Regions from separate parts of the Homo sapiens genome. Here region 2 is linked to region 1. The links come from fine-mapping of genetic effects on gene expression. A gene starts in region 1. The other region holds a variant in brackets. All regions are shown on one strand. Distances are from middle to middle. Region 1 holds the start of MCM3 (minichromosome maintenance complex component 3). Region 2 overlaps GCM1 (glial cells missing transcription factor 1).

Evidence for each region. PIP is the estimated chance that this variant, and not a neighbour inherited with it, causes the effect.
Region 2: its variant is fine-mapped to the expression of MCM3 in prefrontal cortex (GTEx, PIP 0.95).

What each region holds. Positions count from the first base shown.
Region 1 is chr6:52,282,836-52,287,232 of GRCh38, reverse strand. It overlaps MCM3 (minichromosome maintenance complex component 3), which reads left to right and starts at 2,491. Exons shown (of 17, transcript NM_002388.6): 1 at 2,491-2,636; 2 at 3,827-3,939; 3 at 4,372-4,397. The coding sequence starts at 2,559. RefSeq lists enhancers at 2,014-2,213, 2,534-2,613.
Region 2 is chr6:53,131,420-53,135,816 of GRCh38, reverse strand. It overlaps GCM1 (glial cells missing transcription factor 1), which reads left to right. Exons shown (of 6, transcript NM_003643.4): 3 at 1,493-1,745; 4 at 3,698-3,810. Among named protein-coding and RNA genes, the nearest start is that of GCM1, 15 kb to the left of the region's middle. The variant G/T (reference allele first, on the strand shown) is at 2,680.

The sequences.
Region 1 (4,397 bases):
ATTTGAAATGTTTTGCAACATATAATGTTCATTAGTTTGAACAAAGGTATATATAATTTCTTGTAATAATATTTATTATGGATTTGTATTGTGTCTTTGGGTATTTTTTGGACCCTGAGGACATAGAAAAATGGCAGTATTACATCTATTTTGCAATCTCTTTGCAATCTTGTTTTCTTTCCATTCTCTTCCTGTATACTCTGCTCTCCAGGGAGCCCCCTAGCGTTTAGGCAGCCTTGGAGATGGGCTTGAGTCCATTAAAGTCTAGGGTGGAAAGAAAATTGAAATGGAGGAAAGCAGGAATGTGACCCAAGTATGGAAACTGTAGATACACTACTTTATTAGATTATATGTGCTTTTTAATTTTGAATCAGGATAGAGGAGGACTACGGGCTAAGCTCAGCTGGACTTTTTATGAGATATGTACAAATGCCCCTAATTTTTCTGTAGCAACAACCTGATTGATTTTGGGCAGTTTGCAGGTGTCGGGGATAACAAAGGAAATACATTTCCTCTGCTTAAAGATTTCATGCCCTAATGAAAGAAGGGAGAAACACCAATTAAATAGCGGTGTGTCCTTCACAGCTGAAGATGATTATATTGGGACAAATCAAGTCTTTATCAAAGACCATGGCATGATTAATTCATTAAATAGAATTGTCTTTACATAGTTTCCAAATTTGCCATTAGCTCATGGAATGTTAGAGTAAGACAGATTATCAGAGATATTCTAATTCAGTTTCTTCATCTTATACTGTATATAAGGAAACAAGCCCAGAAAAAAGTGTGAGAATCAAAGATGTGGTTTTCAGATTTCCACTCTTTTGGACTTTCTACTACAAATGACTCGACTTCTTTGCTAGTTTGAACTAAGCTTCCCGGTTCTTTTAGTGTTAATTTCAAATTGTTTCCAGAGCAGAGGATATCTCAGTACTCTGTCCAATAAGTTCATAAAATAAGAGTTATGAGTAAAAAGTCTTAATAAATCAGTAATTACCTCTTGCTATATAACGGCAAACAGTATCTTTATTCTAGAATTTTCTTTTTTTTTTGCCCGTTAATAAACATAAAAGCAAGCAGTCAAATGACAGCCTTTTTGCTTTGGCTAAGGATCGATTTATCTGCCCACTAGGATGGCACAAAACATACAGTAACTATAAACTGAATAATAACTAGAAATACATATACCCACACAAATAGATGGCCTATATATTTTGTTTAGGCAGATTATTCTTAGAATATTTATCAGTACATAGTGAGTCCTGAAGACTTTAAAACATAAGCTAATAGTTGGCTGAAATTTCAGATAAAGAATTATCAAATGTCTGATGTTGGGCAATCCAGTATTTCAGCTTCTTGTTCAGTAAAATTAAAAACACATGCTGGGGCAATGGGCTTGCTCTTTATTGTGCAGAGTGGTTACATGGGTGTAAGCACAGGTAAAAATTCACTGAGCTGTACACTTAAGATTTGTGCATTTTACTGTATATACATTATATCTCAAAATAAAACTAGAAATATAAGAAAAAGCCAACCACGACGGACTGAAAACAAACATACAAATTTGGACGTGCGATGATCTTTTAGTCATTATGGTTTCAGATTTGCTGTTAGTTACTGATTGATATTTAATCAAAGTGACGTGAAACACTTTTTCCCCTCTTGAGCTGATCGTTCAGTAAGCTAAGTTACTTAAAAGGATCTTGTGATCTTTTTATAAGACCAGAAAGCCTTTAATTTACCTGTTATTAAGTAAGATGGAGTAGTAACGGTTTCCAAAATTTGTATAACACACGATGAAGTCTCTAGGGGGCAGGGTAAACACAGATTTTTTTTTTCACTTCATCCTTCTCTGCGGCGATGTCTTTATGGAGTTCGTCAGGCAACGGTATCAGATAGCAAATGGGTTTTTAACTAATCTTTCCCTAAGGTACTGTAGTTCTATATTCTATCCTATAGATTCTCAAAATCCACTTTTACACTAGGATGCCACTGGAGGGCAGTTCTGATTTGGATATATCTTAAAAATGATTTGCTTTTATGTTTTCATCTCCCTGCGTTATAAAGCACCATCCTCTGAATTTGGTCGTTGCATCGGGTCAAAAGTTCTGCAGCTTGAAAAACCCTGCAAAAACATCCGGAAAGGAGGGAGAACACTACAACTCCCAGAACGCAATGCTTTCCCTCTCGCCAGCCTGTCCCCTCCAGCTGCTCAATGACCAGCCTCTGTGAGCCTCCTCTCAGCCCTATTGGTCAGTTTGCTCGTCAGTGAGTGAGGCGGAGGGAGGGGAGGAACAGAGAATCCCGGATGGTACGTTTCCCGCCACCGCGGGGCGCGCAGCGGAAAACCCGAAGAAGAAGAAGCTTTTGATTGGACAGTCGCTAGTCCGACCTCAGAGAACTCAGCCAATCATAATGCTTATATGCTCCCAAGGTCCCCGCCTCTTCCTCGAGGTAACCTTTGGTGGCGGGAAGAGTTCGGAAGTTTTCGCGCCGGGGTGGAGTCATCCTGGGAACCTCCACGCGACTTTGGTGGAGGTAGTTCTTTGGCAGCGGGCATGGCGGGTACCGTGGTGCTGGACGATGTGGAGCTGCGGGAGGCTCAGAGAGATTACCTGGACTTCCTGGACGACGAGGTGAGGGAGGCGCCGGCGCGCGGGCTCTAGCGCTCGGAGCCCCTGCGGACGCGGCCCGGCCGGGAAGCCAGAGGCCCGCCAGACCTCCAGACCGTGTGCCGCAGCGGAGCCTGCCGGGCCCGAGCCTCCAGCCCCAATCTTGTAACTTCTCAACGCCGGACTCGCTAGTTTGTGTTCGATAAGTGAACTCTTAGGAAGCCAGCTTTCTCTTAAGTACAAGCGATGGTCCGGGCGCGCAAAAGGCGACAGGTTCCCATTAAGTGCAAGCAGATTGGCAAAGCCCACCTCGGCCTTTTGCATTTCACTGCTCTCTCTTGATTTGAGGAGACTGTGGGGGAGGGGCTGCCCTAGGGCTATAGTGACCAGCCGCGTTGCAGAGTGCTCAGATTTTAGGGACTGACGTTTTACCTGGAGGAAAAGACTCCATAATTCGGCTGCATTCTTTTTCAATACCAACTAAGATGCAGATAAAAAGTGTTTTGTGTGCAGGCCAAGGGGATTTTATGTGCAACCCAAGACTTAAAGCCATAGAATGTTGAAAAAACCATCTTGAAGGGTTGATGATGTGACCAAATAGCTGAGATTCTCTATTCCTTTAGGTCGGGGTATGAGAACCCTTTCCGTATTATAGAGATGATTGGAAAAAATATTACTTTTTACATAATTCTTAAATGAAAAGCCATTTTAATGTGACTATTAAGAGTCTGTTTTATTTACATTTTTATTGTATATATTTGAAGTGCACATGTTTTGATATACATGGTGAAATGATTACTACAGTGAAACAACATATCCATCTATTCACGTTGTTACCTTTAACATTCACATTGCTAGGTTTAACTTAACATTTTAACAAAGTTTGCACTTACTGTCCATTTAGACTTCTCATGAGCTCATTTTAATTCTCCACTAAAGACAGAAATTACAGCATGCAGAAAAGTTGTCCATGATGATGGGAATAACAGCATGGACCTTGAGGAAGTCATTATAATTCTTATAGTCCCCTCTTAGGGTGTTATTTCGAATCTAAAAACAGTGAATGAAAGGGAGAAATTGATGAGCACATACTTACTGGGGATTCAGCTCTGCTGCAGAGATTGACTTAGCTATCTGGCTATGAGAACTACTTCTGTTTAGAAACATTGTTTTTAAATTTGTGGCTATGGTGATATGTGGTGGCTGTTTTGCAGGAAGACCAGGGAATTTATCAGAGCAAAGTTCGGGAGCTGATCAGTGACAACCAATACCGGCTGATTGTCAATGTGAATGACCTGCGCAGGAAAAACGAGAAGAGGGCTAACCGGTGAGAGGCAAGGGGATATACTGGCTGTCAGTGAGAATGGCTCCCTTCCCTCTTGGCCAGATTGGAACAGCCTCTCAGGAGAGGACTTGTATGAAACAGGATTGATCTACAAGCCCTCGTAGCTCACCTGCACCTATTTTTTTTTTTTTTTTTTTCAAAAAGTGGGTGGTTGGCATTTTCCTCCCAAATGCCCCTCCTTCCAATGTTTAGCTGAATATCATTTTTATATCTTTGATAAGTTGAGGTGAAGTTGGTCCTTAGTTCTGGTATTTTACTGAGTCTTATAGGATGGTGTTTTACTGAGACTTATAGGAGAAAGCAGAAGCTGGATTTTCTCATTGTTTTTAATGATCTAAGAATGTCTGCTGTTTTGAGGATCCATTTTTTTGAGTTCTGCCCAGTCTAATTTTTCTTTCTCTTGCTTATGTACAGGCTTCTGAACAATGCCTTTGAGGAGC
Region 2 (4,397 bases), 850 kb before region 1:
CTAAAATTTGTCTTTTTTTTATGTTGTGGGCTGTGCTTTCTGGTTGGGAAAGCAAAGAAGAAGCAGCCTAGTCTTTTCTTCTGGACCTTCTAGAATCTTCTATTTTCACCTTCTAGAACCGTCTAGATGAAAAATGTTCTTACACCATGCTAAGTCTCTGAAAGCCGTAGGGCATGGGCACAGCCTAAGTTTGAGTGCTGACACTGCTTGCTGTTTCTCATTCTAAGAACAAGGAAGGGTCTGTCAAATGCAGCATCTGTGCACCAATGTAGGGCCTAGGAATATGAGCCACAGCATCAGTGACTAACAATTATTTAGAGCTTACAGCATGCTAGGTGCTGTGCTAAGTATTTAATATATATAATCATATTTAATCTTCAGAACAACTCTTCAGGTAGGCAGGTCTCATTATCCCTACATTACAGATGAAGAAACAGAGGCACAGAGAGCAAAATAATGTATGCTATAAGGACTGAGTGTCTGGTGTCCCTGGCCTTTCTTTAATTATTATTTTATTTTGGTCAAAAACACAACTTAAAATTTACCATCTTAACCATGTTTAAGTGCATAGTACAGTCGTGGTAACTATATGTACACTGTTGTGCAAAGGAGCTCTAGAACCTTTTCATCTTGCAAATGGAAACTTTGTCCGTTGAATGACAACTCTCCTTGTCTGTGATGTTTTAAAGGAGAGTTTAGTCAAATGTTCATACACAGGGCATAGCGCCAATCCTGGGCAATAACAGAGACGCTTTCAGTCAAAACAAGCTCTTTCTTACTCCCTTGTCATGTTTGAGGCACGTGAACGTAGGGTTAAAGATAAAGGAAGAAAATCTCTGGGGAAGAAAGTGGCTCTTTGATCTCTCTGAACCAGGGCTTTTCATCCCTCCCACTGCTTATCTCTGGCGACATTGCATAAACCTGTGTGACTCCCAGTAAGATAACCACAGAGTGGTACGAGACATTATCTCACTATCCCGCCACAATGTTTTCCACAGTTTATTTTGAGTTTTTAGAGAAGGGGTCTTGCTGTGTTGCCCAGGCTGGTCTTGAACCCCTGGCCTCAAGCCATCCTCCCACCTCAGCCTCCTGAGTTGCTAGGACTGCAGGCACACCCTACCACACTGGGCCCTGTTTTCTATAGTTATTGTGTAAGAGCATAGCATTACTTAACCTTCAAAAATTCCTACTGAGAAATGGTCATTTCTTGTGTCACTGAGGGCTAGGGAAGTGTCAATCAGATGGAACTCACAGGGGCTATCATTTATTTTGGTCCAGCGGCTGAATGCCTGACAGACACAGCACTCAGTTGCCACTGTTGTGCTGGGCTCGCTGATCCCACTGTCAGAATTAAATGTAGGGAGGCTTTTGCCAAAGGTCTCTTGCCCAGCTCCTGAATGCCAAAACATCCTTCCTATCTACTCACTCCACAGTGGGTGACAGCTGTGTTTTCTAGCTTAAAGTATAGTCGTATCTTTTGTGTTTCTATCAGAACGTGAAAAAAACCGACTGGTTCCAGGAGTGGCCAGATTCCTATGCCAAACACATCTACAGCTCGGAGGACAAGAATGCGCAGCGGCACCTGAGCAGCTGGGCCATGCGCAATACCAACAACCACAACTCCCGCATCCTCAAGAAGTCCTGCCTGGGTGTGGTGGTGTGCGGCCGCGACTGTCTCGCAGAGGAGGGGCGCAAGATCTACCTGAGACCTGCCATCTGTGACAAGGCCCGGCAGAAGCAGCAGCGTGAGTAGAGCTTAGTGGCACCAGCAAAAAAGCTGGCATCCCTCAGATGCCCCTGCCAGATGGGTCACTGTGTCCCAGCACCGCCCAAGGGCAAAACCATCACCCTGGAGTGTAGTGGCAGCCAAGGCTGTTCTGACATGGAGCATATGGAGCGGAACCAACCAGATCCCTTGTGCTCCAGCAAGGACCCCACATATCTGCCATACCCAGAGCACCCACCATCAAAAATGCCTCCTTGGGTTAAGGCACTGGACTGAAGGCTCCTGTTAAAGGGAAGATGGCAGGTGTGGTGGCTCACACCTGTAATCTCAGCACTTTGGGAGGCCAAGATGAGAGGATAAATTGAGGCCAGGTGTTCCAGACCAGCCGGGGCAACATAAGAAGACCCCAACCCCTACAAAAAAATTTAAAAATTAGTCGGGTGTGGTTGCATATGCCTGTGGTCACAGCTACTCCAGAGGCTGAGGCAGAAGGATTGCTTCAGCCTGGAAAGTCAAGGCTGCAGTGAGCCATAATGGAGCCACTGCACTCCAGGCCGCACAATAGAGTGAGATCCTATCTCCAAAAAGAAAGGAAAAATGGCCGGGCACTGTGGCTCATGCCTACAATCCCAGCACTTTGGGAGGCTGAGGTAGGCAGATCACCTGAGGTCAGGAGTTCAAGACCAGCCTGCCCAATATGGTGAAGACCCATCTCTACTAAAACACACAAACACACACACACACACACACACACACACATTTGCCGGGTGTGGTGGTGTGTGCCTGTAATCCCAGCTACTCGGGAGGCTGAGGCAGGAGAATCACTCGAACCCAGAAGGTGGAGGTTGCAGTGGGCCAATGTTGTGCCACTGCACTCCAGCCTGGGTGACAGACTCCATCCAAAAATAAAAGGAAAAATGTATCCCTTCAGGGGTTAATGTTAATTCATCAAT[G/T]ACCCATGTAAAATTTAGAAGAAAGTAGTTTATTGGACTTGCCACTGGACTTCTTGTGGGTCCCTAAGTGATCTCAATGTGTGCATTAATGTGGAGTGGCAGCTGTGAAAGGTTAGACTCAATTCCATTCATTTAGGTTCACATCATAATCACGTGCTGAGATATTTGTTCATTTTCTAAAACACATTCACTGGATTATGAAATAGATACATTCAGCATGCCCTGTACATTGCCCACTTCAAACCTCAAGTTACTTTATATTTTTCCCAGTAGTTTGTTTTAAAAACTTGCTCTTAGGTCAGGACCTGGTATCAGTCATTTACACCTCTGTGAAAATGTAGTAGCTGCATTCACTCTCCCATGTAGCTTGGCCCCTTGACCCTTAGTTCTAATTGTGAAGTGAAAGAACTTCTCTTTTTTATTTTTGAGACAGACTTTCACTCTGTCACCCAAGCTGGCATGCATTGGTGCCATCTCGGCTCACTGCAACCTCCACCTCCCAGGTTCAAGCGATTCTCCTGCCTCAGCCTCCCTAGTAGCTGGGACTACAGGTGTGCACCACCACGCCCAGCTAATTTTTGTATTTTTAGTAGAGATGGGATTTCACCATATTGGCCAGGCTAGTCTCGAGCTTCTGGCCTCAAGTGGATCCGCCTGCCTTGGCCTCCCAAAGTGCTGGGATTATGGGTGTGAGCCACTGTGCCTGGTCAGAATTTCAAATATCACTAAATAAGTAGGGAGGGGTTTTCTGCTCAGAAGAGCTCTGCCTTGACCTGTGAAATATCCTACTTGGTAGGCAACCACTTCCCCTATCCATGTGTGAGACCCATGTGGGCCATTTTAGTGGCCAGGCTTCTGAGGGTCAGGGGTAATATCTAGTGGATTTCAGCCCATGAAACTCTGCCCAGATTTATACTCTGCCGTCCTTGAGTCAGGGCTAAAATCTTCAAGACTGCACAGGAGTCAACAACCGACATGGTTCAGCCAGGTGTGGTCATTTTCCTCTGCTCTTTTGTAGGGAAACGCTGTCCCAACTGTGACGGGCCTCTGAAGCTCATCCCTTGCCGAGGTCATGGGGGCTTCCCGGTCACCAACTTCTGGAGGCACGACGGACGCTTTATATTTTTCCAGGTTGGATTTTTGAGTTAGTTACGTGAGAGTTTCATTACTGAGGAGTTTCACCAGAGGCTAGAAATGCACCTGTGAATGAGATCCTGCACCATCCCCGAGGGCTCACACTCTAAGAGAGCAAGTATCTGTCCCCTGCACTTCTAATAGATGTTTGAAGTGCTGGGGAGCTCTAGAAGGGGAGCTGCCTGTCTCTGCTTCTACTTCTCAGGAGAAGTGGCAGCTAATCTAGTCACACTGAGGTTAGCACAGTGCTTCTAAGCATGCCGCATGCTGCATGCTGCTGGTAGCCTTCAGCAAATCTGAGTTTGAACACCAGCTCTGACTTTTTACTCGGTCTTTAAACCTGAGCAGGTGATTTTCCTCTTCCACGTCCCAGTTTTCTGTAGAATGTGTAAGAGTACTAATGGGGCAGTGGCACCAACAGTGGTGAAGAATGGACCCTGACTCAGACTGCCTGGGTTTGAATTAGTGGGATGCTGGTAAACCAGCTCTCCAAAAAGAAAATGTCCTGATTTGTAGCATTTGCCAACTTCTGTAATGGAAATATTCTCACCGTGGCTGATTTCAAGCCAGCAGTCATTTTTAAC